Linked DNA regions of Homo sapiens: regions 2, 3 and 4 are each linked to region 1. The links come from fine-mapping of genetic effects on gene expression. A gene starts in region 1. Each other region holds a variant in brackets. All regions are shown on one strand. Distances are between the middles of the regions.

Region 1 (8,081 bases):
TCAGATACTCTAATTACAAACTTGTAATTATCCTACCCTTAAGGTGTTCTTAAATATTTTTCAATTAATAGCAACAAAACCTACTAAACCAAAATCAAACAAGTTAAAAATAAACATTGGTCTTCACCTTTTTCGGACTGTGGTGAATTGTCCTTTCCATTGTTTTCCAGGAACACTATGAAAAGATTGCAAAACCAAATCATGAGAAGGTTAGATTCCTACTGAAATGAAAGATATTCATGGTATTTGGAAACTCTTATAAGCAAGAAGTCCGAAAAGTTCAAGATACTTCTGTAGAATGGTTTAATTTAAAAAGTGGCTGCTATCCTGGATGGGGTTAAGAAGCTGCTGGTACTCTGCTCTGGATCTCCTTCTTCCCTGTGGTTCTCCTCCCAACAAATAACTCTCATCTTCAAGTCTACCAAAAGCGGCTGACCTTAGTAGCATAACCTCTAAACCAAACTCAACTCTTACCTTCTCCATAAAGCTGCCAGAAATTGCTCCTGCCGAGAGTAATTTACCTCTTACACACCACTGTTATTTCACTGTGTGGTACTGTATTCCCAATTAAATTGAGAATGTCATAATAGATTTTATAAAACACTCGCAATGCCTAGCCTATTTGGAAGCATTCAAAAACTATGTATTGATGTATTTGTTCAATCAATGTATCCTTTCCTCCTTCCCCTTCCACATATTACCATCAGTTCTTATGATTCTACTGCCTTCTCTCCTTCCTCAGTTCTTAATTCTCATCATCTCTCACCTAAACCTAAAATTGTATTCACGCAGATCTCCCTGTTTTCAATCTTAATCCCTCTCCTATCTACTCTTCTCACTTGGCAACTGCCTTTGTAAAACTCCATTCCAGCATTATTTTTTTCTTTTGAGACAAGGTCTTGCTCTGTCGCCCAGGTTGGAGTGCATGGCGCCATCACAGCTCCCTGCAGCCTTGATTGACTCCCTAGATTCAAGTGATCCTCTTGCTTCAGCCTCCCAAGTAGCTAGGACTACCGGCACACACCGCCATGCCAAGCTAATTTTTGTATTATTTGTAGAGACAGGGTTTCACCATGCCCAGGCTGGTCTCCAACTCCTGGCCTCAAGCTATCCTCCCACCTCAGTCTCTAAAAGTGCTCAGATTACAGGCGTGAGCCACAGCACCCAGCCAAATCCAGCATTCTTGATAACAGAATAAAATCCAAACTCCTTGGTATTCAAAGATTTTCACAAATGGGCTCCTCCTCCCTTGATCTTCAGTAAGTTTAAGATAATTAAGCATAATTACTGCTTCAAAGCTCCGTAAACATGATATAGGGGAAAAAAAGGCAAGAGAAAAACAGAGGGAAGGAACAAATTTTTAGGAAGCAAATTAATGAAGAAATAATGACTAAGCATGGTGGCTCACACCTGATCGCTTGAGGCCAAGAGTTTGAGTCCAGCCTGGTCAACACAGCAAGACCCCACCTCTTAAAAAAAGAATATTAATTTTAAAAAATAAGTAAAAATTTTCAAAAATTTTAAAAAAGACTAAAGCAATAAACAGGTATGTACCCAGTAACATGAATAAAGCAAAAGCAAACCAAAGGAGAGAGCTTTAGAGAGACAGCAGCCAAATGATAGAAAGGTCCAAAACAAACTGGAAGGGTTAAGATTTTCCATTGTAATGCTTACGTATAAGGCTTGATCAATATCCCCCTGTCCACTCTAATCATCCAAGTTGATGAACTATAGATAGTAGACAGAATAGGCCGGACGCGGTGGTTCACGCCTGTAATCCCAGCACTTTGGGAGGCCGAGGCAGGCGGATCACCTGAGGTAGTTCGAGAGCAGCCTGACCAACATAGAGAAACCCCGTCTCTACTAAAAAGAAAATAGAAAATTAGCAGGGCATGGTGGCGCATGCCTGTAATCCCAGCTACTCGGGAGTGTGAGGCAGGAGAAAACCCGGGAGGCAAAGGTTACAATGAGCCGAGATCATGCCATTGCACTCTAGCCTGGCAACAAGAGCAAAACTCCGTCTCAAAAAAAAAAAAAAGGGAGAGAGTAGACAGAATAAATATAAGCATATTATCTCAGTCGCTAGATTTCAGAGGAACTTCTGAAAATACTAATATGGCCAGAGACAGTTCTAGTCAAATGCTATATTCTTTTCTTGCTATGAACAGTGGCCATAAGTAGTATTAAGTACTCACATCATACTAGATGCCTAAGAAAACAAAATTAATGATCCTTCCAAAAGGAAAAAAATGTAAAAATTAAAACTGCTATATAATTTCAGTTTTATGTGATGGGTAAAGATTAGCACAAATTATGTATGTTGTTACTTTTTTTAAAGAGAGAAAATTTTGTCGTAAAGAGAAAATAAATCTTACTAAGAGATGGAAAAAAGTATAATCAGAAGAGTGATTCTCAGCAACTAACAACAAAAAAGAATGGCTACTTTGAGGTTTAAAGTTATTAAATTAAAAATAATTAGCCAGGTATGGTGGCACATGCCTGTGGTTTTAGCTACTGAGGAGACTGAAGCGAGAGGATCACTTGAGGCCAGGAGTTTGAGGTTACAGTGAGCTATGAACACACCACTGCACTCCAGTCTGGGCAACAGAGCAAGACCCTGTCTCAAAAAAAAAAAAAATTAAAGAATAAAAACATACATATAAAAAAACCAAAATTACCTCTCAAACCATGTTTTTATACTGTGTGCAAATGACTCCCCTGGATACAGCTGATTATTTCTTAGATATGAAAGAATATCTAGTAGTTTATTTGAATAGTTATCATCCTTTATGTCTTTTCCAAAATCAAAGAAAGCTTTTAAAGTTTCCAACATAGGAACAATATCATGACCTAGCAATTCCTGATATAAATTCCAAGCTGTGTTTACATCTTGATGAAGGAGAGCTCCCTGGATACAGTCATTATAGTTCTTTTTTGAAGGAGTTATAACTTTTTTGATGTCCTCTAACAGCAACAATGCTTCTCTCCATCTGTCTGAATGGATCAATCCCCGGATGAGAAGACTGTAACCTCTAGGTTCTAAAGTCTTATATCTGGCTTTCATAATTTCAAAGACATCAATAACTTCAGATGTCTGCATATGAAAGACACAGAGATACAAATACTTGACCAGTAAATCGTAACTTACAATACCATTATTTTTGGCTGCTACCCATGCCAGCAGAGATTTAGCCACATCTATAGAGCTATGACAGCCAGCCATCTGTGAAATGATCCAACTTTCGAAACTGGTCTTTCCGGTGTTTTCTTTTAAATCTTCCTTAAGTTTATCCCACTCCTCTGAATTCAAAGGTTGTGTTGGGAGTTGAATAGTGTTCCTCACAGGTGCCAAGGCATGATCTTCAGTTTGAGAATTCATCTGTGATCTCTCCTTAGCTGCTCCAGCTAAAAAAAAATGAGGAACAGAATAAACTTGCTTATTACTGCCCTCATCTTTCCTGAGATATCTGGCCTTGGCAATCAGATTCGTTGCTTTGGTATTCTGTGGAGACATTGTTTTAAGAGAAAACAACCTCTGCTGGTTCCTGATGCCACAGCGGTCTGCCAGAAACAGCGAGACATAAGAGTGCCCTGGGCCTAGCCCAAGGTATGGGCTCTTCCAAAGCTTCGGAAAGCTTCGAATACCAAACAAATAGAAAGTCATTATGCAGTGAGATCAGCACCAGATAGTGAGAGAGATGTTGAAAAAACCCCTCTTCTATGGCAAAATTAAAGAGATTGGGGGTCGGCGGTGCAGAGTCGAAGTGGAACTTTTTAAAAGGTTTGTGTTTCTTCCTTACAGACAAATCAAGGTTCTGCTTTTGGGGCTACTTAAAAGCAAGAAGGCAGGTGAGTTTTCTCTATTAAACAACAATCCGGGGATGTCCAACGTCGCAAGCCGCAAACCAGGGGACAGAGCAGGAATCCTCTGGTGCCTCTTACATTCCAGTTCATGAACCTGAGGAAAAAGCACAAGACGGAACGCCCAGTTTTACTCACGTGGATCACAGCTGTCCTGAAAAGGAACAGATTCCCACGGGAAGCTTGCTGGAAAGGGGGTGTAAAGCCAAAACCGTATCCAGGGACCCCCAACTCCAGCCTACCACCAACAGCGGCGAAAGCCGAAGTCTAGGGGCCCTCACCCTGCATAGCTCTCTACAGACCGCAAAACTCCTCCGGTGGGGGGACGAGGAGGGAGGAGGTGGCGAGTCAGCTGCGCCAACGACTCAGGAAAGGAAGAGAGGTACAGGAAGGGCGCTGCCTAGACTGCGTACCGAACGCTGACAAATGAAGTTCACTTCATTCAACAACTCAAAGCGGCACTCAGACTTAACGCGGCCATAAACGCGGCGGAAACTACAGTGCCCACGATGCACCGCGCCAGCCCCGACCGACGGACGAGACTGACCCGGACTTAGGCGTTCCGCCTGGCCCGGCGGCGAGGAAAAAAGGCAGTTTTGAAGCATTTAGTGGCAAAAGGGGTAGGAGACGGCTGCTGAAGTGTCTACTACATTCAGGGGACCTGGAAGGCTTCCAGATATCCGCAATGAACAATGAAAAGAAATTGTGAAAGAAGGCGCTTCCCTCAAGCCGGAACTAATGAACTCCTGGGTCACGTGGTGCGCACGCGCCAAAGGCACACGATAAAGGAAAACGCGGGCTTATCGTGGCCTTTAAAATCCGGCTTGGTGAGCTTGGGTCGCCTCTGAAGGAGAACCATTTTCCATCTCTTTCATAGTTTTTTCCCCCAGTCAGCGTGGTAGCGGTATTCTCCGCGGCAGTGACAGTAATTGTTTTTGCCTCTTTAGCCAAGACTTCCGCCCTCGATCAAGATGGTGGTTGGACGGCCTTCCTAACCTTTACGGGGCCTGGCGGTGCTGACGCCTGAGCTGGTAGGGGTGGAGCAGGTAGGAAACAGCAAATGCAGAAGCTGCTGCGCGGAAGTCGGCCATGGACTGGAAAGAAGTTCTTCGTCGGCGCCTAGCGACGCCCAACACCTGTCCAAACAGTGAGTTTTGGGAGGGGCAGCCCGTTGGGATGGCCCGGCCCTAAACTCCTAGAGGTAGGGGGGAGGTGGGGAGGAGGAGCAAGGGGGAGCCGCCTTTTCCGCTTCTGTGAAACCTCCCGACAAAGGAGGCGGAGTGGAATGTGGTTTAAGGATCCCGATAGGTTTGACCCAAACTTTCCTGGGGCAGAATCTAGAGGAACGAAAAACTTAGCTTTAGTCACTGACTTCCATGGTCTTAATCTAAACTTGTGAAGAATAACTTGGAACCCCGGCTCCAACAACGCCTGAACCCCACCAGGACCTATAATTGTCCTCCTGCCTTTTTACTGTCACGCTTTTTGCTTCCCTCGTAATCCATTTTATATTTCATAATCCATTTTTCCTTTTATTTTTCTCCTTCACATTGCTTATTAACTAACCTCGTTAAATCTACCTTTCCTATTCCACACCCGCACTAAGGGCTGTTGAAAGTGGCTGGAGAAAAACAGAACCTTGGTGAGTTGTCTCACTTTTTTTTTTGAGACGGAGTCTCTTGCTCTGTCGCCCAGGCTGGCTGGAGTGCAGTGGCAGCATCTCCGCTCACTGCAACCTCTGCCTCCCGGGTTCAAGCGGTTCTTCTGCCTCAGCCTCTGGAGTAGCTGGAACTATAAGCGCGCGCAACCACGGCCGGTTAATTTTTGTATTTCTAGTAGAGACGGGGTTTCGCCATATTGGCCAGGCTGGTCTCAAACTCCTGACCTTGTGATTCGCCCACCTCGGCCTCCCAAAGTGCTGGAATTACAGACGTGAGTCACCGCGCCCCGCCGAGTTATCTCACTTTTAATACAAGTCCACTAATCTAAAGAAGGTGTTTTGGTCATGTCTACCGTGTTTTCCTGGACGTTCATTCTCCTACATTCAATTTTCATCTCCCAAACTGCCAATCTGTGTTTTCCTAAATACACTTTTTTTTTTCCGATACAGGATCTCCCTGTGTTGCCCAGGCTGGAGTGCAGCGGCGCAGTGAAGTATTGCTGCAACCTCGATTTCCTGGGCTCAAGGGATCTTCCCACCCCAGCCTCTTGAGCAGCTAGAAGTACAGGCACACGCCACCACACCCGGCTAATTTTTTATTTTTAGTGGAGATGAGGTCTTGCTATGTTGCCTGGGCTGGTCTCGAATTCCTGGCCTCAGGCAGTCTTCCTACCTCCACCTCCCAAAGTGTTGCTATTACAGACGTGAGCCGCCGCACCCAGGCAACACTCTTTTACACTATTCTTCTCATCTCCTACACCTGCAGTCTGTCCTACCCGCTTCTTACTTTAAGCTGATGAACTTGTATTTTAATATATATCTCATTAAGAAAGGAGAAGCAGTCGGCCGGGCGCGGTCGCTCAGTCCTGTAATCCCAGCACTTTGGGAGGCCGAGGCGGGCGGATCACGAGGTCAGCAGATCGAGACCATCCTGGCTAACACGGTGAAACCCCGTCTCTACTAAAAATACAAAAAAATTACCCGGTAGTGGTGGCGGGCGCCTATAGTCCCAGCTACTCCAGAGGTTGAGGCAGGAGAATACCTTCAACCCGAGAGGCGGAGCTTGCAGTGAGCCCGAGATTGTGCCACTGCACTCCGGCCTGGGCGACCGAGCGACACTCAGTCTCAAAAAAAAAGGAGAAGCAGTCAGAGGAGAACATCACCTGTCCCCCTTAACATTTCTTTCAGCCCCACAACCCCACAGTTAGTTGCCCATACACTCTGGCTTCACTGTTAAAATGATGAACTGATGCCGGGCGCGGTGGCTCAAGCCTGTAATCCCAGCACTTTGGGAGGCCGAGGCGGGCGGATCACGAGGTCAGGAGACTGAGACCGCAGTGAAACCCCGTCTCTACTAAAAATACAAAAAATTAGACGGGTGCGGTGGCGGGCGCCTGTAGTCCCAGCTACTCAGGAGGCTGAGGCAGGAGAATGGCGTGAACCCGGGAGGCGGAGGTTGTAGTGAGCCGGAGATTGTGCCACTGCACTCCAGCCTGGGCGACAGAGCGAGACTCCGTCTCAAAAAAAAAAAAAAAAAAAGATGAACTGTCCATGCTCCTATTTAAGAGTCCCTCCAGTCCACCACTAGATTGCATTCTTTTCCCTGTATTCACTGACTTCCTTCCAGCCTCCTCCTTTCTTTCCTACATCATCAGATTTTCCTTCTGCTGGATCATTTACACCAGCACAAACGTGCTGTTAATATCACCCATCTTTTTAAAAGGTGGGTGGTCGGGGGTAGTGGTGTTGGGAGGCTCGGTGGCTCATTCATGTAACCCCAGCACTTTGGGAGGCCGAGATGGGAAGATCGCTTGAGGCCAGGAGTTTGAGACCAGCCTGGGCAACATAGTGAAACACCGTTTCTACAAAAATAGAAAGTAAAAAATTAGCCCGGGTGGTTGTGCACCACTGTAGTCCTAGCTACTCGAGAGGCTGAAGCAGGGAGGGTTGTTTCAGTCTAGGAGTTTGGGGCTGCAGTGAGCTATGATCATGACACTATACTGCAGCCTGGGTGACAAGAGCCAGACCCTGTCTTAAAAAAAATTCATTTGGGCTGGGCACTGTGGCTTACACCTGTAATCCCAACACTTCGGGAGGCCGAGGTAGGCAGATCACTTGAGGTCAGGAGTTCAAGACCAGCCTGGCCAACATGGTGAAAGTCCGTCTCTACTAAAAATACAAAAAGTAGCTGGGCGCAGTGGTGCACACCTGTAATCCCAGCTACTTGGGAGGCTGAAGCGGGAGAATCGCTTGAACCCAGGAGGCAGAAGTTGCGGTGAGCTGAGATTACGACACTGCTCTCCAGCCTGGGCGATAGAACGAGACTACATCTCAAAAAAAAAAAAAAAAGTCATTTGATCCCACATCCCTCTCCAGCTTCTGTTGCATTTCTCTGCACTCTTCATAGGAAAACTTCTCAAAGAAGTTACCTGTACTTGGCTGGGCGCAGTGGCTCATGCCTGTAATCCCAGCACTTTGGGAGGCTGAAGTGGGTGGATCACCTGAGGTCAGGAGACAGACCAGCCTGGCCAACGTGGTGAAACGCTCTCTCTACTAAAAA
Region 2 (8,081 bases), 240 kb before region 1:
GCCCCGAGACCCCAGCATGGAGGGTGGCGTTCATGGAGGCCTTTTTGACGGGATCAGGTGGGGTGAGGAGAGGGTCTGAGATACTTTTTGTGCACATCGCCGGTGTGACGGGCAGGAAGGAGTCCGCTGTCACACGCATGCCGTGGGTATTTGGAGAGAGTTTAATAAAGGAACCGTTTACAAAGGCCAGGGCCCAGCGTGGGGCAGCCACGAGGGTTAGTGCTGGAACCCGGGCGCGCGACAGCTGCCCGGACCCTGCCTGAACCCAGAAGCGACCCAGTGAGAGAAGGAAAGAGGAGCAGCAGCGCGAGCGCAGTGCAGCCCTCAGGTGACCCCGCAACGCCAGTGAAGAGCCCACAGGGAGTCCAGGAAATAAACCCGGACCTCGGCTCACCCTCCGCCGCCCATCTCTGCAGCGTTTTCCCCGGGGCTGAGCCCAACCAGGATCCCACGGGCCAGAGCCGCAGCGCCGCTGTCCCCAAGACGTGGCCAGAGGGACAAATGTCTGGCACAGCTAGCTGATGTTTAAGTGGTTTTCTTTTGTCTTTGCAATTTAGAGATAACCGTATGAAAAATAGCTGTATTCCGATATCTCAAGAGTTAAAAAATCTCACCCCAGCCGCCCTGCCCCTCGCTGGGTTTGCGGGCTTCTTTCTGGCAGAGTCTGGGAGGGCGTCCCCAGGCATTTGCTCTCCTGCCCCCGCGGTCACCCAGGAGGCCTGGGCAGCCCAGCCCCTCTGTCCAGGAAAGCCCCTGGAGTGGGTGCAAGCTCTGAATCACACGTTCCACCCTGACACCCCTTAGAAATTTAAGCTGCCTGTCATTGATCCTTCTCCGGGCCACTTTTGTACACAGTTCCAGCTGAAGAAAGGCACCAGTATCTGCACATTGCTTAAAAATGAGACTATTCACCTCTCTGGGGTGAGGGGAGAAACAAAAGAAAAAGAAATGAGAATAAACGCACTTCGCATCCCAACATCATAAAATATTACAAAGAGTTTTGCTTTTGCAAAATCAAATAAACTACCCACAACTGTACCTACCAAGTAAAAGTGCACCTTTGTTTGTAAGCAGAGGAATGAGGAAAACAGACTGGGGACACTTGGACTCATTTCCAGAGCATAGCTTTAGGGACCAGCCTCAGGGTGGTTGTAAAGATCACATTCAGAACAATGAGCTCTTCCTAGATGTCAAGTCACTATGCGGGACTGCACCTCCAACCCCAAGGCTACCCACTAACCCCAAACCTTGCCCTCTAAAGCTCAGCTGGGAGTGCAATGGGTTAAAATAAGTCAACCCAATGGAGTGCAGGGGCCCGGGGAGCTCCTCAGCCATGTGGAGTCCTGGTTTGCCCCCATGCCAGGCTGCTACAGGCAGGGCCCATTCATCCAAATGAACCCCTGAGCTGCTGGGGCAAGAGGGTGAAAGGAGAAGATGTCCCTCCCAGTTGGTTCCCAGGTTTGAGGGAGAAGCACAGATCCTGCCTCCATCCAGCCCAGAAGAGAAGAAGGGTCCTCCTGGGGAAGAGGTGGCCTGACCCCCATGCAGGGCTGGGAGGAGGCGGGTGAGGGGGCTGTTGTGAAGCTGCAAGTTCCCTTTGCATACCGAAAGCTTCTAGTTGCAGCCGGATGTAGGGGAAAGTGCCGGGGGAGATAAGGGGCCCCATGAGCAGAGCACCCCACCATGGGAAGATAAAAATAGAAATACAGTTCTCCCCACCCCCACCCCAGCCAAAGAAAGTGTGAAAAGCCACTCTGGAATGCCACAGAAGCAGCCATGCAAATTAAACTCATTAAATGAAATAGTACAAGTACAGGGCCTAGCACTAGCTTGCCACATGGTAGGTGCACAGTGAATGTTGCTCCCCTTACACACACACACACACACACACACACACACACACACACACACAGCTGTGTCTGGCCCTACCACAAGCTGAAATGCACATTTACTTGATATATTCATCCGGCTCCTCTTTGAGAGGCATGACCTCGGCTGCCCAAACTTGCAGGCCTCCCCGTAACTGGCCACAGCAATCCCAGCACAGAGCCCCTGGTGTGGAAGGGGCATGACAGGGCAGCCTCAGCCTCAGGTGTCAGCCCTGGTGGGCTGGGTTCCAGGCAAACATTCTGAGGCAAAGTCTCCACGAGGGTGAAGGTTCTCCCAGAGCTGGCCCTTCTGACTCCAGGCACAGGGCCTGGGGCGCCTCGTCACTTCTCCCTCCTTTCTGCCAACCAACCTCCCCCGGCTCCACATTTGCAGACAGGTAGCCAGGCCCCTCCACCTCAGGCTCCCTGCAGGGTGGCCCTGGGATGTCAGGTCTGGGGTGGGCAAGGGGAGGCTGGAAGACAGTCTCCCAGTGACTCAAGCTAGGCTGACCCCTCACTACAGAGGAGTCAACCCCTCCATTTGGATGTGGAGCTTCGGTCTCCTCCACCACACACTTGCACGAAGGGTTGGGAGACTGGGTATGGGGAAGGAAAGGGATAACGCTGAGGGCTGAGCCCTGGGGGGTAGTGCCAACCTGGATTTTGCAACAGAGCAGGCTGAGAGCGAGGACCATGTACAGAGAACCCACTGTGTGCCGGCTCTATGCCAGGCCTTTGCATAGTTTCATTTCATCTTCACCACAAGTTGGTCAGGTAGGTGTTCAAGACCCATTTTATAGATGAAGAGACTGAAGCCCCGTGTTCAAGACCCATTTTACAGATGAAGAGACTGATGCCCACAGAGTTGAATTTAGTTGCCAGAGTCACACAGCTATCTGAGAGGGGTGGCCTCTGGCTCCATTGGAGGTGCTGTGTTTTCTGACTGAGGGTTGGGGCTGGTGTGGATCTGGGTAAAAGGCTGCGGATGGACTTCTGGCTGCAGCCCAAGGAACCATGTGGGGCAAGGCTGGCTCGGTGAGCATGCAGCGCTGTCACAGAGGGGTCGGGACTGTGGGCACCCTGCTGGCCAGTGGAGGGCTGTGGAAGAGGTTTGCACAGGCCTCGCTGTCCCCGAGGTCACCAGGCCTTCTCCCCTGGAGTAAGTGGGGGTCCCCAAGCCTTAGACTCCAGCGTGGGTGATGACTTCTTTCTGCCTTCCCAGTTGATGCCCTTGGAAAAGCCCCTGACTCCATCATGGGCCACAGAGTGCTGTGTAATTTCCTCTGTGGGTCAGCCCTCCACTGAAGGCTGTGACGGGGACATGACTCAGGCCTTGGCCTGCCACCGACAAGCCACCAGCTGCATGGATCCCAGCTGACTCGGTGGACACAGAAGCGGCGCCTGCTGGTTTCTGCCATTTATGCTTCATCCTACACTAGGAGAGGTGCGCCCGCCGAGGGGATGGGCCAGGCAGATTGTGGGTCACACTGGACCCACAGCATGTCAGGAACTGGGACCAGTTCTCGGTCATCGCTGGGGAGAACCGTGACTGAGACAGACCCTCCGCCAGGTCTGGAGCAAGTCAGCCAGGATCCTCCAGGCTCAAGAATCTCAGTGGCACCAGCAAGCTATTGGAGCTGGGCCTGCTCTCCCCATCTACTCCCAAGTAAGAACATTTTCCATCTTCCCACAGGAAGTGACCCACAAGTGAATTTGCTCTTTTTGGAGAAAGGTGCTTTGCTTAGATAATTAAAAAAAAAAAGAAACCAAACCCATTCAGTGGTTACTTCAAGCTGCCTTCCAGGAATTCACCATGGATATACAGGGCCTTGAAAGGCCTCAGCTGACAGCAGGTCTTTGGAAAACAAGAAAGGTCATCTTTGGATCCCTTGTTCTGAGCTGACAGTGGCCTCCCCCTCAGGGTGGGGAAGCACAGGCCAGGGCACCAGTCATACTTCTGGGCAATTCGAAGTCATGTGTTCTGTGTCACCAAGGCCGTGACTCACCCCTGTGCTTGCCGAAGCTCATTCACAAAGGGGTGAAACTGCTCTACAAGCACTTTTCTGAGTGAGGCTGCCCACCTCCCAGAGGGGAAAACGGGCCCCACGGGAGGTGGGCCTGGCCCTCCCGGGTTCAAGCCGTCCAGGCAGGGGCCCCTCAGGGCCAGGACCAGGAGAGTTCAGTTCTGTGTCCCCACCCCTTAGGACTTCAATAAATTCTGTTAGATGAATGAACCAACAGCAGAAGAAATGAAGTGAAGCTGGCACAAAACCCTAAAGCTCCTCCTTTCGATGTAGACGTTCCCTGTGTTCTTGCTCCTCGGGGAAGAGGAGAGATGCTTGTGTGACCCATGGGAGGGAGGCTGGACCTCCTCAGAGTGAGCCAACAGCGGCTGAGGGCACAGAAGTCACATGCCCAGGGCCGGCTCTCCCTCCACATCCCTCTAAGAAGGTGGGAGCTGTCCTGGAATCCTTTGAGGGGGTAGGGCCACTCAGTGTCCGGGCTATTTCTGGAATTACAAACAGCTCATGTTGGTTGAGATCCTCAAAGGAGTTTCATTTATTTATTTATTTTTTTATTTATTGAGACAGAGTCTCACTATGTTGCCCAGGATGGTCTCGAACTCTTGGCTTCAAGTGATCCTCCCACCTCAGCCTCCCAAAGTGCTGGGATTACAGGCATGAGCCACTATGCCTGGCTCAAAATAGTTTTTTATTTCTTTTTAATCTTTATTCATTTATTTTTTGAGACAGAGTCTTGCTCTGTCATCCAGGCTGGAGTGCAGTGGTGCGATCTTGGCTCATTGCAACCTCTGCCTCCAGAGTTCAAACGACTCTTGTGCCTCAGCCTTCTGAGTAGCTAGGACTATGGTGGTGCGCCATCATACCTGGCTTTTTTTTTTTTTTTTTTT[C/TC]TGGAGACAGAATCTGTAGCTGGGATTTTAGGCATCTGTCTCCACACCCAGCTAATTTTTGTATTTTTAGTAGAGACAGGGTTTCACCATGTTGGCCAGGATGGTCTCAAACTCCTGGCCTCAAGTGATCTGCCCACCTCGGCCTCCCAAAGTGCTAGGATAACAGGTGTGAGCCACCACACCCAGCCAAAAGAGTTTTTTTTTTTTTAAATTATTGTTATTATTATTGTGCTCCTTAAAACAACAAAGGCCAGGTGACAGATGCTAAGAGCCCAGTCTAGACTGGTGCAGTCAGGCCGGGAGGAGTGAGCAGCCACTTGTGGGCCTCGGTCAGGCTGTCCTGACAGAGAGGACAGAGTAGGTGGCTATCCATGCTGCAGGTTCCGCCACCCTACAGCATCTCCTCCCTGCCTGGGAATCCCATGTTTAGTTGCTCCTGTAGGTTGGACAGCCATGATTGGGGCAGCTGCCACCCAGAGATTGTGGGGACAGTTCTGGGCTTGCCTAAGGGCTCTGGAGTCTGGAATCTGGACCACATAGTACAGCAAGAGAAACAGCACACAGCTCATCCTTGAGCGTATCTAATATATCAAAATGATTCCAGAATTAATGAGACCTCCTGGGTACCTAGTACCTAAAGGCTTAACTGGGATAGCACTCCACCCCACCCCCCATCCCACCTGCCCCACCTCTCGCAAGACATATTCAGTCCTCCATAGAGACACCTCCCTTAATGCTAAGGAGTTCACTCAGCTCAGACTTCTGGAGTGGGGAAACGGAGGCTTTCTCCATCCAGACTCATCATCCTGGAATTCTTTATTTCTCTCTCCTGATTGCGGTTTTTTTTTCTATATTCCCTATTTTTTCACTTTTTCTTTTTCACAGTCTTTTTTTTCTTGAAATATTTCTCCTTTTCTTTCTTTGTCTTCTCCTTAGTAAATCAAATTGCCTAATTGTCAACCTGGCAGGTGGGGACTGGAACCCAGGGAGGATGTGGCACCGGACAGAGGCTTCCAATGGAGGCAACAGCTTGGTCCACCCACATGGCGGCAGATCCACGCATCTCCCTGGACCTTCCGTGTCTGAGCGTCCATCTGGGAGCCTCCACCAAGGGGCATGAGAGAACAGAAGCGGAGGAAGACCCTGAGAGTTGGCTTCCTAAGAGAGAAAAGGGTAACGAGAATGACATAAGAGTTTTGTTAGGCTGATCACACTAATGGCCAAAACACTGAAGCTGAGTGGGTCAGCGATGCAGCAGGCATTAGTGCCAGCTGGAGAATACAAGTTTGCCCTGCACTTAGGGCCGCACCATCCATGTGGCAGGATTTCTCACTCCTGGGGCCTTCCACAGACGTGCATTTTACCATATTCTCTAACCATAAACAAACGAAAACTCTCGTGGCATACAGCTTTCAAAGACCATTGTCTCGAAAAGGAAATTGGGACTGCATTTTCCCACAAGTTCAAGGAGTTTTGATTACTCAGAACGCCCTCTCGACATTCTTGTGAACATTTGAGAAATTCCCACTGCCTCCTGTTGCCCTCAGTGCAGGAAGCCAGGGATATGCACACTCAGACAAGCGCTTCTGGGCTCACAGCAACTGCACAAACCATTGCATAACTGCAAGCAGGGTGCGTGTGTGTGTGTGCAAGTGTGTGTGTGCGTGCGTGCACGTGTGTGCATGCATGTCTGCGTTGTGTCCATATGCGTGTGCGTGTGTGTGCATGTGTCCGTGTGCGTGCATGTGTACATGCGTGCGTGCCTGTGCGTGTGTGCGCGTGTGTGTGCGCGCGCGCGTGTGTGTGTGTTACTTTGCTTGATAATGAAAGGAAATGCAAATAAAGAAATACTGGCTTCTGGTAAATTTATGCCTAAAAGATTACTTCATTCCAAATCTTTCTGGACTACACACCTCCTCAAAATTCCTCCCCAATTTTTTTTCCAGGAGCTTATTTCCCAGAGTGGTGTTCCAGGATTGCTGCAGGACATGTGACAATGGAATTACTTCTATGAGAGCCCGATTTTGGGGCTCAAAGTTGTCCTCAAGCCCAGAGATGGATGCAGGGACTCTCCAAGGTAGAAGGGCCTTCTGGCTACCAGCCACCCATGCAAAGTGAAACTCCAGGCACGAAAAAGACATGGGGAGTCTTGGCAAATACTGAAGCCACTGCTGGAAAAGAAGGAAGGCCCCATGTGAGCCTGCCCTCACCATTCCATGGAGACAGATGAGCCCGTGGGAAGCTGAATGTGCTAGGGGAGATCTTTGTGCCCTGCTAACCAGTGGCCTGCCAGAAGCCCAAAAAGTGCCAGGAGGGAGCAGCGACAGGAAAGCAGAGAATTCTGGAAAATAAGGTTTCCCAGCATCATCTGCCTGGGTGAATGTCGTTGGCAGGTAGACATCTGTCTCAATTTCTAAAGAATGATCTGATTTTCTAAAAAAGGAGAAAGAAGGGAAGGAGGGAAGAAGGAAGGAAGGGAAAAAAAGGGAAAAGTAAAGAAAAAATAAAAGAACTCCGGGCGCAGTGGCTCACGCCTGTAATCCTAGAACTTTGGGAGGCTGAGGTGGGCAGATCACCTGAGGTCAGGAATTTGAGACCAGCCTGACCAACATGGTGAAACCCCATCTCTACTAAAAATACAAAAAAAATTAGCTGGCTGTGGTGGCGCGTGCCTGTAATCCCAGCTACTCGGGAGGCTGAGGCAGGAGACTCGCTTGAACCCGGGAGGCGGAGGTTGCGGTGAGCCGAGATTGCACCATTGCACTCCAGCCTGGGTGACAAGAGCAAAACTGCATCTCAAAAGAAAAAAAAAAGAAAGAAAAAATAAAAGAAAAGGAGATATAAAAGTTCTAGATCTGTGCTGTTCACTGCCCACATAATGCTAGTGAGCACCGAAATGTGGATGGTCTGAAACGGGATTCACTGTAAATGTAAAATAGACACTGGGTTTCAAAGGCTCAGTGAGGAAAAGGGACTGTAAAATAAGTAACAGTCATTGTCATCAATTACATGTTGAAATAATCTTTTAATTATTTTTTATTAAACAAAATAGATTAGAATTCATTTCACCTGTTTTTATTTTTCATTTTTTGAGAGGGAGTCTCACTCTCACCCAGGCTGGAGTGCAGTAGCATGATCTGGGCTCACTGCAACCTCTGCCTCCTGGGTTCAGGTGATTCTACTGCCTCAGCCTCCCCAGTAGCTGAGATTACAGGCGCCTGCCACCACACCTGGCTAATTTTTGTATTTTACTAGAGACTGGGTTTTACCATGTTGGTCAGGCTGGTCTCGAACTCCTGACC
Region 3 (8,081 bases), 54 kb before region 1:
GCACTTTCATATGTAATTTCATTTGATCTGCAGCTGGCCTATCTAGACTTCTAAATTAACCCACATGATAGTTATGATAAGAATGAACTGGCGGTTCCAAGATGGCCGAATAGGAACAGCTCCAGTCCACGGCTCCCAGCGTGAGCGATGCGGAAGATGGGTGATTTCTGCACTTTCAACTGAGCTTTGAAGAGAGCAGTGGTTCTCCCAGCACGGAGTTTGAGATCTGAGAATGGACAGACTGCCTCCTCAAGTGGGTCCCTGACCCCCGAGTAGCCCAAGTAGGGGCAGACTGACACCTCACACGGCCGGGTACCCCTGAGACGAAGCTTCTAGAGGAACGATCAGGCAGCAATATTTGCTGTTCAGCAATATTCGCTGTTCTGCAGCCTCCGCTGCTGATACCCAGGCAAACAGGGTCTGGAGTGGACCTCCAGCAAACTCCAGCAGACCTGCAGCTGAGGGTCCTGACTGTCAGAAGGAAAATTAACAAACAGAAAGGACTTCCACACCAAAACCCCATCTGTCTGTCAACATCATCAAAGACCAAAGGTAGATAAAACCATAAAGATGGGGAAAAAACAGAGCAGAGAAGCTGAAAATTCTAAAAATCAGAGCACCTCTCCCCCTCCAAAGGAACGCAGCTCCTCGCCAGCAACAGAACAAAGCTTTGCGATGACTTTGATGAGTTGAGAGAAGAAGGCTTCAGACGATCAAACTTCTCTAAGCTGAAGAAGGAAGTTCGAACCCATTGCAAAGAAGCTAAAAACCTTTAAAAAAGATTAGATGAATGGCTAACTAGAATAACCAGTGTAGAGAAGTCCTTAAATGACCTGATGGAGCTGACAACCATGGCACGAGAACTACGTGACGAATGCACAAGCTTCAGTAACCGACTCGATCAACTGGAAGAAAGGGTATCAGTGATGGAAGATGAAATGAATGAAATGAAGCAAGATGAGAAGTTTAGAGAAAAAAGAGGAAAAAGAAATGAACAAAGCCTCCAAGAAATATGGGACTATATGAAAAGACCAAATCTATGTCTGATTGGTGTACCTGAAAGTGACAGGGAGAATGGAACCAAGTTGGAAAACACTGCAGGATATTATCCAGGAGAACTTCCCCAACCTAGCAGGCAGGCCACCATTCAAATTCAGGAAATACAGAGAATGCCACAAAGATACTCCTCAAGAAGAGCAACTCCAAGATACATAATTGTCAGATTCACTAAAGTTGAAATGAAGGAAAAAATGTTAAGGGCAGCTAGAGAGAAAGGTCAGGTTCCCCAGAAAGGGAAGCCCATCAGACTAACAGCGGATCTCTAGGCAGAAACTCTACAAGCCAGAAGAGAGTGGGGGCCAATATTCAACATTCTTAAAGAAAAGAATTCTCAACCCAGAATTTCCTATCCAGCCAAACTAAGCTTCATAAGTGGAGGAGAAATAAAATGCTTTACAGACAAGCAAATCCTGAGAGATTTTGTCACCACCAGGCCTGACCTAAAAGAGCTTCTGAAGGAAGCACTAAACGTGGAAAGATACAACCGGTACCAGCCACTGCAAAAACATGCCAAAACGTAAAGACCATCGATGCTAGGAAGAAACTGCATCAACTAATGAGCAAAATAACCAGCTAACATCACAATGACATGATCAAATTCACACATAATATTAACCTTAAATGTAAATGGGCTAAATGCTCCAATTAAAAGACACAGTCTGGCAAACTGGATAAAGAGTCAAGATCCATCAGTGTTGCTGTATTCAGGAGACCCATCTCACATGCAGAGACACACATAGGCTCAAAATAAAAGGATGGAGGAAGATCTACCAAGCAAATGGAAAACAAAAAAAGGCAGAGGTTGCAATCCTAGTCTCTGATAAAACAGACATTAAACCAACAAAGATCAAAAGAGACAAAGAAGGCCATTACATAATGGTAAAGGGATCAATTCAACAAGAAGAGCTAACTATCCTAAATATATATGCACCCAATACAGGAGCACCCAGATTCATAAAGCAAGTCCTCAGAGACTTACAAAGAGACTTAGACACCCACACAATAATAATGGGAGACTTTAACACTCCACTGTCAACATTACACAGATCAACGAGACAGAAGTTAACAAGGATATCCAGGAATTGAACTCAGCTCGGCATCAAGCGGACCTAATAGACATCTACAGAACTCTCCACCCCAAATCAACAGAATTTACATTCTTCTCAGCACCACATCGCATTTATTCCAAAATTGACCACATAGTTGGAAGTAAAGCACTCCTCAGCAAATGTAAAAGAACAGAAATTATAACAAACTGTCTCTCAGACCACAGTGCAATCAAACTAGAACTCAGGATTAAGAAACTCACTCAACCGCTCAACTACATGGAAATTGAACAACCTGCTCCTGAATGAATACTGGGTACATAATGAAATGAAGGCAGAAATAAAGATGTTCTTTGAAACCAATGAGAACAAAGACAAAACATACCAGAATCTCTGGGACACATTTAAAGCAGTGTGTGGAGGGAAATTTATAGCACTAAATGCCCACAAGAGAAAGCAGGAAAGATCTAAAATCGACACCCTAACATCACAATTAAAAGAACTAGAGAAGCAAGAGCAAACACATTCAAAAGCTAGCAGAAGGCAAGAAATAACTAAGATCAGAGCAGAACTGAAAGAGACAGAGACACAAAAAACCCTTCAAAAAAATCAATGAATCTAGGAGCTGGTTTTTTGAAAAGATCAACAAAATTGATAGACTGCTAGAAAGACTAATAAAGAAGAAAAGAGAGAAGACTCAAATAGACACAATAAAAAATGATAAAGGGGATATCACCACCGATCCCACAGAAATACAAACTACCATCAGAGAATACTATAAACACCTCTACGCAAATAAACTAGAAAATCTAGAAGAAATGGATAAATTCCTGGACACATACACCCTCCCAAGACTAAACCAGGAAGAAGTTGAATCTCTGAATAGACCAATAACAGGATCTGAAATTGAGGCAATAATTAATAGCCTACAAACCAAAAAAAGTCCAGGACCAGACGGATTCACAGCCAAATTCTACCAGAGGTACAAGGAGGAGCTGGTACCATTCCTTCTGAAACTATTCCAATCAATAGAAAAAGAGGGAATCCTCCCTAACTCATTTTATGAGGCCAACATCATCCTGATACCAAAGTCTGGCAGAGACACAACAAAAAAAGAGAAATTTTAGACCAATATCCCAGATGAACATCGATGGAAAAATCCTCAATAAAATACTGGCAAACTGAATCCAGCAGCACATCAAAAAGCTTATCCACCACGATCAAGTGGGCTTCATCCCTGGGATGCAAGGCTGGTTCAACATA[C/T]GCAAATCAATAAATGTAATCCAGCATATAAACAGAACCAAAGACAAAAACCACACTATTATCTCAATAGATGCAGAAAAGGCCTTTGACAAAATTCAACAGCCCTTCACGCTAAAAACTCTCAATAAATTAGGTATTGATGGGACGTATCTCAAAATAATAAGAGCTATTTATGACAAACCCACAGCCAATGTCATACTGAATGGGCAAAAACTGGAAGCATTCCCTTTGAAAACCGGCACAAGACAGGGATGCCCTCTCTCACCACTTCTATTCAACATAGTGTTGGAAGTTCTGGCCAGGACAATCAGGCAGGAGAAAGAAATAAAGGGTATTCAATTAGGAAAAGAAGAAGTCAAATTGTCCCTGTTTGCAGATGACATGATCGTATATTTAGAAAACCCCATTGTCTCAGCCCAAAATCTCCTTAAGCTGATAAGCAGCTTCAGCAAAGTCTCAGGATACAAAATCAATGTACAAAAATCACAAGCATTCTTACACACCAATAACAGACAAACAGAGAGCCAAATCATGAGTGAACTCCCATTCAAAATTGCTACTAAGAGAATAAAATACCTAGGAATCCAACTTACAAGGGATGTGAAGGACCTCTTCCAGGAGAACTACAAACCACTGCTCAACGAAATAAAAAAGGACACAAACAAATGGAAGAACATTCCATGCTCATGGATAGGAAGAATCAGTATTGTGAAAATGGCCATACTGCCCAAGGTAATTTATAGATTCAATGCCATCCCCATCAAGCTACCAATGACTTTCTTCACAGAATTGGAAAAAACTACTTTAAAGTTCATATGGAACCAAAAAAGAGCCTGCATTGCCAAGACAATCCTAAGCCAAAAGAACAAAGCTGGAGGCATCAAGCTACATGACTGCAAACTATACTACAAGGTTATAGTAACCAAAACAGCATGGTACTGGTACCAAAACAGAGATATAGACCAATGGAACAGAACAGAGCCCTCAGAAATAATGCCGCTTATCTACAACTATCTGATCTTTGACAAACCTGACAAAAACAAGCAATGGGGAAAGGATTCCCTATTTAATAAATGGTGCTGGGAAAACTGGCTAGCCATATGTAGAAAGCTGAAACTGGATCCCTTCCTTACACCTTATACAAAAATTAATTCAAGTTGGATTAAAGACTTAAATGTTAGACCTAAAACCATAAAAACTCTAGAAGAAAACCTAGGCAATACCATTCAGGACATAGGCATGGGCAAGGACTTCATGTCTAAAACACTAAAAGCAATGGCAACAAAAGCCAAAATTGACAAATGGGATCTAATTAAACTCAAGAGCTTCTGCACAGCAAAAGAACCTACCATCAGAGTGAACAGGCAACCTACAGAATGGGAGAAAATTTTTGCTATCTACTCATCTGACAAAGGGCTAATATCCAGAATCTACAAAGAACTCTAACAAATTTACAAGAAAAAAAACAACCCCATCAAAAAGTGGGCAAAGGACATGAACAGACACTTCTCAAAAGAAGACATTTATTCAGCCAACAGACACATGAAAAAATGCTCATCATCACTGGCCATCAGAGAAATGCAAATCAAAACCACAATGAGATACCATCTCACACCAGTTAGAATGGCGATCATTAAAAAGTCAGGAAACAACAGGTGCTGGAGAGGATGTGGAGAAGTAAGAACACTTTTACACTGTTGGTGGGACTGTAAACTAGTTCAACCATTGTGGAAGACAGTGTGGCGATTCCTCAGGGATCTAGAACTAGAAATACCATTTGACCCAGCCATCCCATTACTGGTTATATACCCAAAGGATTATAAATCATGCTGCTATAAAGACACATGCACATGTATGTTTATTGCGGCACTGTTCACAATAGCAAAGACTTGGAACCAACCCAAATGTCCATCAATGATAGACTGGGTTAAGAAAATGTGGCACATATACACCATGGAATCCTATGCAGCCATAAAAAAGGATGAGTTCATGTCCTTTGTAAGGACATGGATGAAGCTGGAAACCATCATTCTGAGCAAACTATTGCAAGGACAGAAAACCAAACACCGCGTGTTCTTATTCATAAGTGCGAATTGAACAATGAGAACACTTGGACATAGGAAGGGGAACATCACACATCAGGGCTTGTCGTGGGGTGGGGGGAGGGGGGAGGGATAGCACTAGGAGATATACGTAACGTAAATGACGAGTTAACGGGTGCAGCACACCAACATGGCACATGTATACAAACCTGCACATTGTGCACATGTACCCTAGAACTTAAAGTATAATAAAAAAAAAAAAAAGAAAAAAAAAAGAAGAATGAACTGTCAAAATCTCTAAGTCCTGTTCTGTAGGCCAAGGAGGAGTGAACCTTAGGTATGCCACTCTACCAGTACAACCGTGCTGAAAGAACAAGGCTGTAAAACGTATAGGTCCTCTTTTGTCATTAAGAGGCTTTTATTTACCTATGGCTGTTTTGGAGAGGTAAAGATTCAGCCAATCATTAATTCAACAAATATTTGCTGAGCACCTACTACATGCCTAGCAGTTTACCAAAGGGACAAACAAAACAAAACAGAACAAAAAAACCCCAACTTAATGGAGCTTAGTGGGAGGATGCAGAAAATAAACGAAGTCAATAAGTAAATAATATTAAATGTGAGAATGCTATGGAGAAAAAAATAGGGGAGGGAGTTCTACCTCTGGTAATGATGGAATAGTTTGTACTGGACTACTAGATAATAATATAAATTCTAGATAAATACCCAACTATTTCAAAGTACCAAAGAATGAGCAAAAGCAGGCAGAAACTGGAGGGGACATGACATTTGAAGGTTTGGTAGTTTTAAAATCTGTCTGAAAATTAGTTGACACTCCCCTCTCAAAAGGTGATGTCTAATACCCTATGCTTTGAATATGGGCTCTCCTTTGTGACTGCCTCAATGAGTGGGATGTGGCAGAAGTGACATTATGTGATTTCTGAGGCTAGGAAATAAAAGATAATACAGCTTTCATCTGGCTGTCACTCTCAGGATGCTTGCTCTTGGAAACCAGCCATCCTGAGAATGCCCAAGTAGACGTTATATGTAAGTGTTCCATCTGACAGTCCAACGGAGTCCCAGCCAACAGCCAGCTAGCATCAATCACCACACCGATGAGACTGAGGGGGATTTCAAGATGACCCCCAGCCCCTATTTGATTACAATAGGAGACCCAAGCAAGAAGCATCAATTGAGTCTCATCAACCCCTAGAACCACGAGAGAGAACAACAATAATAATAGTAATAAATGATTGCGTTTTTTTAAAGCCACTATATTTGGGAAAATAAAGGAAAGAAAAGAAGGGAATTATACCAGGTAAAATTTGTCTTGGTCAGAGGGCAATCTCCAGACAGTATGGCCAGCAGGAACAGCTGGAAATCAAGCAGAAAGCTGCAGAACTTACTGGTTTGAGGAAACAGAAGACAGAGTTTGGGGCAACCAGAGGCTGGAAAATGACAGGGAATCCTAGAAAGGATAAAACCACAAAATTTGCACATAAATCTCCTCAAATCCTTGGGTAAAACATGATCTGCACATGCTTGGAGAAGATTCCAAGAAGCCCAGCAAAAAAGCAACAGGTGAAAGACTTGAAAGACCTAAGCAGAGATCTCAGCTGCTACCCACTGCAAGGGAGACAGTTTGGAGTCTAAGTCTAAAGAAGTTTAACAGCCTGCTAAATTAGCAAAAAATCAATAATTTCTAGACAAACATAGATAATCTCTAAAGCCTCTGCAATGTGTCATTCACAATGTCTGATACACAATTGAAAATTAATAAACATGAAAAGAAATACAGAAATGTGATCCACAGTCAAGAAAAAAGGGATTCAAAATAAACTAATCTGGGCTGGGCACAGTGGCTCAAGCCTGTAATCCCAGCAATTTGGGAGGCTCAGGTGGGTGGATCACTTGATGTCAGGAGTTCAAGACCAGCCCGGCCAACATGGTGAAACCTCATCTCTACTAAAAATATAAAAATTATCCAGGCATGGTGGTGCATGCCTATAATCCCAGCTACTCAGGAGGCTAAGGCAAGAGAATTGCTTGATCTTGGGAAGTGAAGGTTGCAGTGAGCCAAGATCACGCCACTGCACTCCAGCCTGGGCAACAGAGAGAAACTCTATCTCCAAAAAAAAAAAATGAAACTGGCTGGGCGCAGTGGCTCACACCTGTAATCCCAGCACTTTGGGACGCCAAGGCAGGTGGATCACGAGGTCAAGAGATCAAGACCATCCTGGCCAACATGGTGACAGCTTGTCTCTACTAAAAATAAAAAAATTAGCTTAAAAATAAAAATTAGCTGGGCATGGTAGTGCATACCTGTAGTCTCAGCTACTCAGGAGGCTGAGGCAGAAGAATCGCTTGAACCCGGGAGGCGAAGGTTGCAGTGAGCTGAGATCATGCAACTGCACTCCAGCCTGGTGACAGAACGAGACTCTCAGAAAAGAAAGAAAGAAAGAAAGAGGAGAGGAGAGGACAGGAGAGAGAGGGAGAGAGGGAGAGAGGGAGAGAGGGAGAGAGGAAGGGAAAGAAAGGAAAGAGGGGAAAGAAAGAAAGAAGGAAGGAAGGAAGGAAGGAAGGAAGGAAGGAAGGAAGGAAAGAAAGAAACCAATCCAAAGTGTAGATGCCTGAGTTAGCAGACAAGAGCTATAAAGTAACTATTGCAAAT
Region 4 (8,081 bases), 31 kb after region 1:
AGAACCCTTTTTAAGTTATACACTTCCTTTTCAATAGAACAGAATGTAATTTGATCCTTGTTGACTCAGGAGCATCATTATGAACATTAGCTATTGTCATGCTTTGTTGATAAAATGCTATTCCCAGGGTCTACTGATGGAGCTAATCTACATTATCTTGTTGGGTGGTCTTTTGACTCCTTTGGCTTTTTTTTTTTTTTTTTTTTTTGGAGATAGAGTCTTGCACTGTTACCTGGGCTGGAGTCCAGTGGCATGATCTCGGCTCACTGCAACCTCCACCTCCCAGGTTCAAGTGATTCTCCTTGCCTCAGCCTCCCAAGTACCTGGGATTACAGGCGCTCGCCACCACACCCGGCTAATGTTTTTTTTTTTTGTTTTTTTTTTTAGTAGAGACGGTGTTTCACTATGTTGGCCAGGCTGGTCTGGAACTCCTGACCTCTGATCTGCCCTCCTCAGCCTCCCAAAGTGCTGGGATTACCGGCGTGAGCCACCACGCCCGACCTCCTTTTGGCATTCTTATCTCTACTTTCAAGTGCTAGCATTTCAGTGCTTTTTGTTGGCCTCTACCTCCATTTAATTTAGAAACCTAGGAATGTTTAAAAAGACTGCAAACTGAAAACAAATAATGATGTAAGTGAAACAGCCCAGAGACTATGGCCTTCATGATGGGTTTTTTTGGCTGTTTCTAGCCCAAGGGTTTTTCTGATCAAGATTGCAAAGGTAGCTGATAGTATTACACATAGGCCACTACCCTAATCATAACATGAATAGTTTGAAAATCAAAATATTAACCAAGAAAAAACTTTTTGTTAGTCTATTCTTCTGATTAAAATTTTATTGTGGTCATAAGTGTCTTTATTATTTTTCTTCCCAAGGCCAGTACTTGAATCTTGATAAAGATCACAATGGCATGCTCAGTAAAGAAGAACTCTCACGCTATGGAACAGCTACCATGACCAATGTCTTCTTAGACCGTGTTTTCCAGGAGTGTCTCACTTATGATGGAGAAATGGTAGTAGTTTAAATCTGCTGCTAAGTTTTAAAAGTTTAGGCTCCCAGAGTTTCCACAAACCCTTTTCTTGATGTAATACAGCCCTTTTTTTTTTGAGACAGAGTCTTGCTCTGTCGCCTAGGCTAGAGTGCAGTGGTGTGATCTCCGCTCAATGCAACCTCCACTTCCTAGGTTCAAGTGATTCTCCTGCCTCAGCCTCCGGAGTAGCTGGGATTATGGGTGCATGCCACTGCATCCAGCTAATTTTTGTACTTTTAGGAGAGATGGGGTTTCACCAGGTTGGCCAGGCTGGTCTTGAACTCCTGACCTCAGGTGATCTGCCTCCCAAAGTGCTGGGATTACGAGGCGTGAGCCACCACACTCGGCCCAGCATTATTGATATCACTGTGTAACAGTGTCTTTAAAATGTGTAAACTGATCAAATTACTTGAGATTCAGAGTCTTTGGTCTTAACGTAAATTAAAACATCTGCATTATGGCCTCAGGGCAAATAGAAAAGCTTATTGTTCATTTCATTGTCAGTGCACCTACTGTACAGTAGTGCATTCTAGTTTTTTTTTTTTTTTAAAAAAAAGCTGAGGCCAGGCTTGGTAGCTTATGGTTATAATCCCAGCGCTTTGGGAGGCCAAGGCCACAGAACCACTTAAGGCCAGTCGTTCAAAACTAGCCTGAGCAATACAGCGAGACTGTCTCTACAAAAAATAAAAAAATTACTTGGGCATGGATGGAATGTGCCTGTAGTATAGCTACTCGGGAGGCTGAGGCAGGAGGATTGCTTGACCTGAGGAATTTGAGGCTGCAGTGAGCTATGATGAGGCCACTGCACTCCAGTCTGGGCAGTAGAGTGAGACCATGTCTCTTAAAAGCTGAAACATTAGTAAATTATTCTGGCTATTTTCAGCTAGATAGTTCCGTCATTAAATTACCAGGTCAAATGTAGTAACACATATGCCATGATTTAATTCTGAGAATCAGGTTGTATTAGTCTCTAGAAGTGGCTATATGAACAGCTGAAGATAACATGCACTTGTCTTTTTATTATAACAATGCAAAATACTTGAGAAGGAAAATTCTAAACAGCATTTTAAAATCACCATTTTTGCTGCTAAAAACATGGGTTAAGAATCTGATAACTTTGGGAGGCCGAGGCGGGTGGATCACAAGGTCAGGAGATGGAGACCATCCTGGCTAACACGGTGAAACCCCGTCTCTACTAAAAATACAAAAAATTAGCTGGGTGCGGTGACGGGCACCTGTAGTCCCAGCTACTCCAGAGGCTGAGGCAGAATGGTGTAATGGTGTGAACCCGGGAGGCGGAGCTTGCAGTAAGCCGAGATGGCGCCACTGCACTCCAGCCTGGGCAACTGAGCGAGACTCCATCTCAAAAAAAAAAAGAATCTGATAAATTTCCCAAACCAGTTATGCTTAAAAAATAGTCATATTGTCATGAGAATGGGGGGGTCTTACATTTATCATTTAGCTTCAATAGCAGTTTGCTAAATAACACCATTAGTAACAACAAAAGAAAAGAGGGGAAAAGGCACAGAAAATTTACTTTGTAACTCCCACAGCTGTAAACAATAGACAGTGAGGAGCTTATATTATTAATATAATGATTCCTGATGAATAGAGAAAATCAGGCTACAACTATGGATGAAGTCAGATCACAATCTGCATTCTTTAACTCTTTAGTGCTATTTATGCAGAAAGGAACTTTTCTAAGAATATAAAATTTTTATCTAAGTGAGAACCTCCCAATTACTACTTTTTACCATTAAAAAAAAAATCTGAGTATCCTGTTTTTTTGTTTTGTTTTGTTGTTTTTGTTTTTGTTTTAGATGGAGTCTCCCTCTGTCGCCCAGGCTGGAGTGCAGTGGCGCGATCTCGGCTCACTGCAAGCTCCGCCTCCCGGGTTGACGCCATTCTCCTGCCTCAGCCTCCCGAGTAGCTGGGACTACAGGCGCCCGCCACCATGCCCGGCTAATTTTTTTTTGTATTTTTAGTAGAGACGGAGTTTCACCGTGTTAGCCAGTATGGTCTCGATCTCTTGACCTTCTGATCTGCCCGCCTCGGCCCCCCGAAGTGCGTATCCTGTTTTTATAGGGAAGGCTTTCTGTTCTCTTCATGTCTTTCTGGCCTTTCCATTTTGCCTTTTTATGGATGAGAGCAGTGTCAGCTCACTGTAAAATGTCTGGCAATCTCAAGACAGCTTCTTATTGGAAATCTGAATTAAAAATTTTAAACAATATTTTAAAATAGCAATTTAAATATACTGTTCTGAGACTGGGCACGGTGGCTCACACCTGTAATCCTAGCATTTTGGGAGGCCGAGGTGGGTGGATCACCTGAGGTTGGGAGTTTTGAGACCAGCCTGACCAACTTGGAGAAACCGCTTCTCTACTAAAAATACAAAATTAGCCAGGCGTGGTGGTGCATGCCTGTAATCCCAGATACTCAGGAGGCTGAGGCAGGAGAATGACTTGAACCTGGGAGGCAGAGGTTGTGGTGAGCCAGGATCGCGCCATTGCACTCCAGCCTGGGCAACAAGAGCGAAACTCCATCTCAAAAAAAAAATTATACTGTTCTGTTCATTCCAGATAAAAAATTTGTTTTTCAAAATAACTGCACTGAAATGAAGTTATAAGTTTATAGCTTAGTCATCTGTTTCAAAAGTTTGAAGCAGGATGCAGTAGTTCATCCCTCTAGTCCCAGCACTTTGGGAGGCCGAGGCCAGATGATTGCTTGAGCCCAGGAGTTTGAGACTAGCATGGGTAATACAGGAAAACCCCATCTCTACAAAGAATTTAAAAAAT[T/C]AGCCAAGTGTGATGGCGTGTACCTGTAGTCTCAGCTGCCTCGGAGGCTGTAGTGGGAAGATTGCTTGAGCCTGGGAGATCAAGGTTGCAGTGAACTATGATCGTACCACTGCACTCCAGCCTGGTTGATAAAGTGAGACCCTGTCTCAAAAACAAGAATAATGAAAGAAAATTATAGTTTAACACAGCAAATCTCTCATAAAAAAATGAACTAGGGCTGGGCACAGTGGTGCATGCCTATAATCCCAGCACTTTGGGAGGCCGGGGCAGGCGGGTCACTTGAGGTCAGGAGTTTGAGACCAGCTTGGGTAACATGGAAAATCCTGTCTCTACTAAAAATATAAAAATTAGCTGGGCATAGTGGTGTGCACCTGTATTCCCAGCTACTTGGGAGGCTGAGACAGGAGAATCGCTTGAACCTGGGAGGCAGAGGTTTCAGTGAGCTGAGATTGCACCACTGCACTCCAGCCTGGGCAATAGAGCAAGACTCCGTCTCAAAAAAATAAATAAATAAAAAAGAACTATGTCCTCAAAACTGTCCTGTGTAGATTATATATAGAATTCCTATGGCTGGGCAGGGTGGCTCACACCTATAATCCCAGCACTTTGGGAGGCTGAGGCGGGCGGATCACCTGAGGTCGGGAGTTCGAGACCAGCTTGACCAACATGGAGAAACCCCATCTCTACTAAAAATACAGAATTAGCCAGGCATGGTGGCACATGCCTGTAATCCCAGCTACTCCGGAGGCTGAGGCAGGAGAATTGCTTGAACCCGGGAGGTGGAGGTTGTGGTGAGCCAAGATTGTGCCATTGCAACTCCAGCCTGGGCAATGAGAGTGAAACTCTGTCTCGAAAAAAATTCCCTAGAAACCAATATTAAGTATATAAATGGATTTCTCATATCATAACTTAGGGAAAAAATTAAATTTGCCACCTTTGATTGCAAAATAGCTTCAAATCATAAGATATTCACTTGAAAGTTAATTTCAACTAAGGCCTCTAATGAACATTATTTTCTGTTCTGTAGGACTATAAGACCTACTTGGACTTTGTCCTTGCATTAGAAAACAGAAAGGAACCTGCAGCTCTACAATATATTTTCAAACTGCTTGATATTGAGAACAAAGGATACCTGAATGTCTTTTCACTTAATTATTTCTTTAGGGTAAGTCTCATTTGCATAAGTGAGTCATTGTTCCTTAAGATATATCATTTTGTTGCTGCCGGTGCAGTGGCTCACGCCTGTAATCCCAGCACTTTGGGAGGCCGAGGCAGGTGGATCACAAGGTCAGGAGATAGAGACCATCCTGGCTAACATGGTGAAACCCCGTCTCTACTAAAAATACAAAAAATTAGCCAGGTGTGGTGGTGGGTGCCTGTAGTACCAGCTATTTGGGAGGCTGAGGCAGGAGAATGGCGTGAACCCGGGAGGCAGAGTTTGCAGTGAGCCGAGATCGTGCCACTGCACTCCAGCCTGGGCGACAGAGCGAGACTCCGTCTCAAAAAAAAAAAAAAAAAAAAAATTGTGAGATGCAGCAAAAGCAGTGGCTAGAGGGAAATTTATAGTATTGAATGCATATACTGGAAAATGTTAAAGATCTAAAATCAGCATCTACTTTAGGAAATTAGAAAAAGAAGAGCAAATTAAAGATATATCATTTGGTTTAAATTAAATATTTAGTAACCATTTTACCTAACTCGTGATTTTTATTTATTTTTTTCTTTTTTTGAGAAAGGGTCTGGCTCTGTCGCCCAGGCTGCAGTGGCATGATCATAGCTCGCCGCAACCTCCAACTCCTGGGCTCAGGCAGTCTTCCCACTCAGCCTCCCCAATAACTGGGTCCACATGCCTGTAATCCCAGCTACTTGGGAGGCTGAGGCAGGAGAATCACTTGAACCCAGGAGGCGGAGGTTGCAGTGAGCTGAAATCGCGTCACTGCATTCTAGCTTGGGCAGCAAAGCAACACTCGGTCTCAAAAAAAAAAAAAAAAAAAAAACTACAACTACCAAAGTCTATAAAAATTTCTGTGGAAAGGAGCTACCTTTTCTGAACTGCTTAGCATCTTACAAGTTTTTCATCACAAGTATAGAATTTATCACATATTTGTATTTCCAATGGTAGTACAGCCCCTGACGTATATTTACATATTTTTATTTTACATCTAGTCAAATCAGCTTTCACTCAATTTTTTTAAGTAGGAAAGAAAACTAAAAACTTGATTTCTTTCTGAAATCTGTTATGTAAATGCTTTTATTAAATTTAAAAATCGGCCGGGTTGCGGTGGCTCATGCCTGTAATCCCAGCACTTTGGGAGGCCAGGGTGGGCGGATCGCAAGGTCAGGAGATCAAAACCATCCTCACTAACATGGTGAAACCCATCTCTACTAAAAATGCAAAAAAATCAGCCGGGCGTGGTGGCGGGCGCCTATAGTCCCAGCTACTCGGGAGGCTGAGGCAGGAGAATGGCATGAACCCAGGAGGCAGAGCTTGCAGTGAGCCGAGATTGCGCCACTGCACTGCAGCCTGGGTAACAGAGCGAGACTGAGTCTCAAAAAGAAAAAAAAAAATTAAAAAATCATACCCCAGGCATGGTGGCTCACACCTGTAATCCTAGCACTTAGGGAAGCTGAGGCAGGAGGTTCACTTGAGCACAGGAGTTTGAGACCAGCCTGGGCAACACAGGGAAACCCCAACTTCTACAAAAAATTTAAAAAATTAGCTGGGTGTAGTGGTCACATGCCTGTGGTCCCGGTTACTGGGGAGGCTGTGCCCAGCCAGTTGTAGATACTTTTATTTGCTATGTTGAAATAAACCATGAAAATAATTTTTAGGCCAGGCGTGGTCGCTCATGCTTCTAATCCCAGCACGTTGGGAGGCCAGGGAAGGAGGGTTGCTTGAGCCCAGGAGTTGGGAAACCAGCCTGGGCAACATAGGGAGACTCCATCTCTACAAAAAAATTAAAAATTAGCTGGGTGTGGTGGCACATGCCTGCAGTCCCAGCTACTTGAGAGGCTAAGGTGGGAAGATCACTAGAGTCCGGGAGGTCAAGGCTGCAGTGATCCATGATTTGCCACTGCACTACGGCCTGAATGACAGAGTAAGACCCTATCTCTAAAAATAAAAATTAAAAAAACTGAATGCTATATGGGCTTATATCAGCGGCTCATCTGAGAAAATAAATACCAACCCATCATAGGAATGCCCCTACTTTAGACAAACCTATTAGGTAAAAATCCAGTCTTAAGAAAATAAATGTATTTGAAATTAAACACTGCTCTTTTTCATAAAGATTTCTTTACAGTATTTTCTACTCTTAGAATATTAAATTGTTTTAAAACTACTTTAAAAATATTTCATATAGGCATTTTGTCAAAGCTTATTTAGGCTTGGTTATATGGGATAAGGTAAAAAGTGTCCAATGCTGAGCCCTATAATCCTGGGCTGTTCACAGAGCGTTTGGACATCACTATCCTAATGATAAAGCTGGGTCTGGATGATTCACTCTAGATCATACCATCTATTACTATATTAACAGAGCATGTACTCAGATTCTTATCTACTTCAAAGGGATTCCTTTATGGATACTCTGATTATTAGTGGTAACAGAGTAGGCATCGGGAACAAAGTTGACTGTTCACCAAGAATTTGAAACTTCACATTTCCAGTGAATAATGCTCACCTGAAGTATTTTGTATTCCTACTGGATGACAGCAGTTTCTTCATTTTTTTGTTAAAGTTTATGAAAAGGAAGAGTTTTGGGAGGTCTACCTCCATTTCTTGTATTACGTAGAAAGCAAAGTGTAGGGTAGGAAGGGAGACAGTAGATTGGGGATCTTAAGAGAATAGTGAAGGCAGGAATAACATTCATGGAAAATGAGAGGAGCAGATCAAACAGAATAATTGTGAGGCCATGCTGAGGGCCTGTTTGAGGTTGGAGAACATTCCTATGTAGAAGCAGCAATCCGTAATCTTTTTATTTTTTTTCCTGAAGTTCTCAATAGTTAAGATATAGGTCTAAAAAGGTCAATACACTAATCGAGAATTTAGGTTTTGCTCACTGATGTGGAATAAGGTCAAGAAAGCTAAGAAGATTGGCAAGAGAGAGAATGATGAGGTTTGTGGCCTGATAGGAAAGGAAGTATAAGTAGAAAGGGGTTGTAGGGCAAAAGAGGGATGTTGTGTATTTCATTTTTTATTTACAGATTTATTTCTATTAAATACAGGCCATACAGGAACTAATGAAAATCCATGGACA

Direction of the effects. Positions count from the first base shown, and alleles are read on the strand shown. Sizes are in standard deviations (SD) of each study's normalised expression. Not every link is listed here.
As copies of TC replace C in region 2, the expression in monocytes of the gene that starts at base 4,358 in region 1 goes down (large effect, 0.88 SD a copy in Schmiedel 2018).

Evidence for each region. PIP is the estimated chance that this variant, and not a neighbour inherited with it, causes the effect. A credible set is the group of variants that fine-mapping cannot tell apart.
Region 2: its variant is the best candidate, but not a certain one, in a credible set for the expression of PRORP in monocytes (Schmiedel 2018, PIP 0.63).
Region 3: its variant is the best candidate, but not a certain one, in a credible set for the expression of PRORP in monocytes (TOPMed, PIP 0.55).
Region 4: its variant is the best candidate, but not a certain one, in a credible set for the expression of PRORP in whole blood (INTERVAL, PIP 0.56).

Annotation. Positions count from the first base shown.
Region 1 is chr14:35,118,829-35,126,909 of GRCh38, reverse strand. PRORP (protein only RNase P catalytic subunit) reads right to left here and starts at 4,358. Exons shown (of 8, transcript NM_014672.4): 1 at 4,275-4,358; 2 at 2,679-3,958; 3 at 128-175. The coding sequence starts at 3,664. It overlaps PPP2R3C (protein phosphatase 2 regulatory subunit B''gamma), which reads left to right and starts at 4,920. Exons shown (of 13, transcript NM_017917.4): 1 at 4,920-5,008. The coding sequence starts at 4,951. It overlaps PRORP-PSMA6 (PRORP-PSMA6 readthrough), which reads right to left and starts at 5,071. Exons shown (of 15, transcript NR_182666.1): 1 at 4,858-5,071; 2 at 2,679-3,958; 3 at 128-175. RefSeq lists enhancers at 3,865-4,374, 3,458-4,377, 4,385-4,464, 5,005-5,134, 4,378-5,297 and 1 more.
Region 2 is chr14:35,361,439-35,369,519 of GRCh38, reverse strand. No RefSeq gene overlaps it. Among named protein-coding and RNA genes, the nearest start is that of NFKBIA, 39 kb to the left of the region's middle. RefSeq lists enhancers at 427-1,015, 1,016-1,603, 1,604-2,193 and a silencer at 1,848-1,897. The variant C/TC (reference allele first, on the strand shown) is at 4,780.
Region 3 is chr14:35,172,344-35,180,424 of GRCh38, reverse strand. The region is part of intron 4 of PRORP (protein only RNase P catalytic subunit); the gene reads right to left. All of the region lies in intron 4 of PRORP-PSMA6 (PRORP-PSMA6 readthrough), which reads right to left. Among named protein-coding and RNA genes, the nearest start is that of PRORP, 54 kb to the right of the region's middle. The variant C/T (reference allele first, on the strand shown) is at 3,369.
Region 4 is chr14:35,087,979-35,096,059 of GRCh38, reverse strand. PPP2R3C (protein phosphatase 2 regulatory subunit B''gamma) reads left to right here. Exons shown (of 13, transcript NM_017917.4): 10 at 876-1,012; 11 at 4,853-4,990; 12 at 8,050-8,081. The region is part of intron 1 of LOC101927178 (a long non-coding RNA gene); the gene reads right to left. Among named protein-coding and RNA genes, the nearest start is that of PRORP-PSMA6, 30 kb to the left of the region's middle. The variant T/C (reference allele first, on the strand shown) is at 3,826.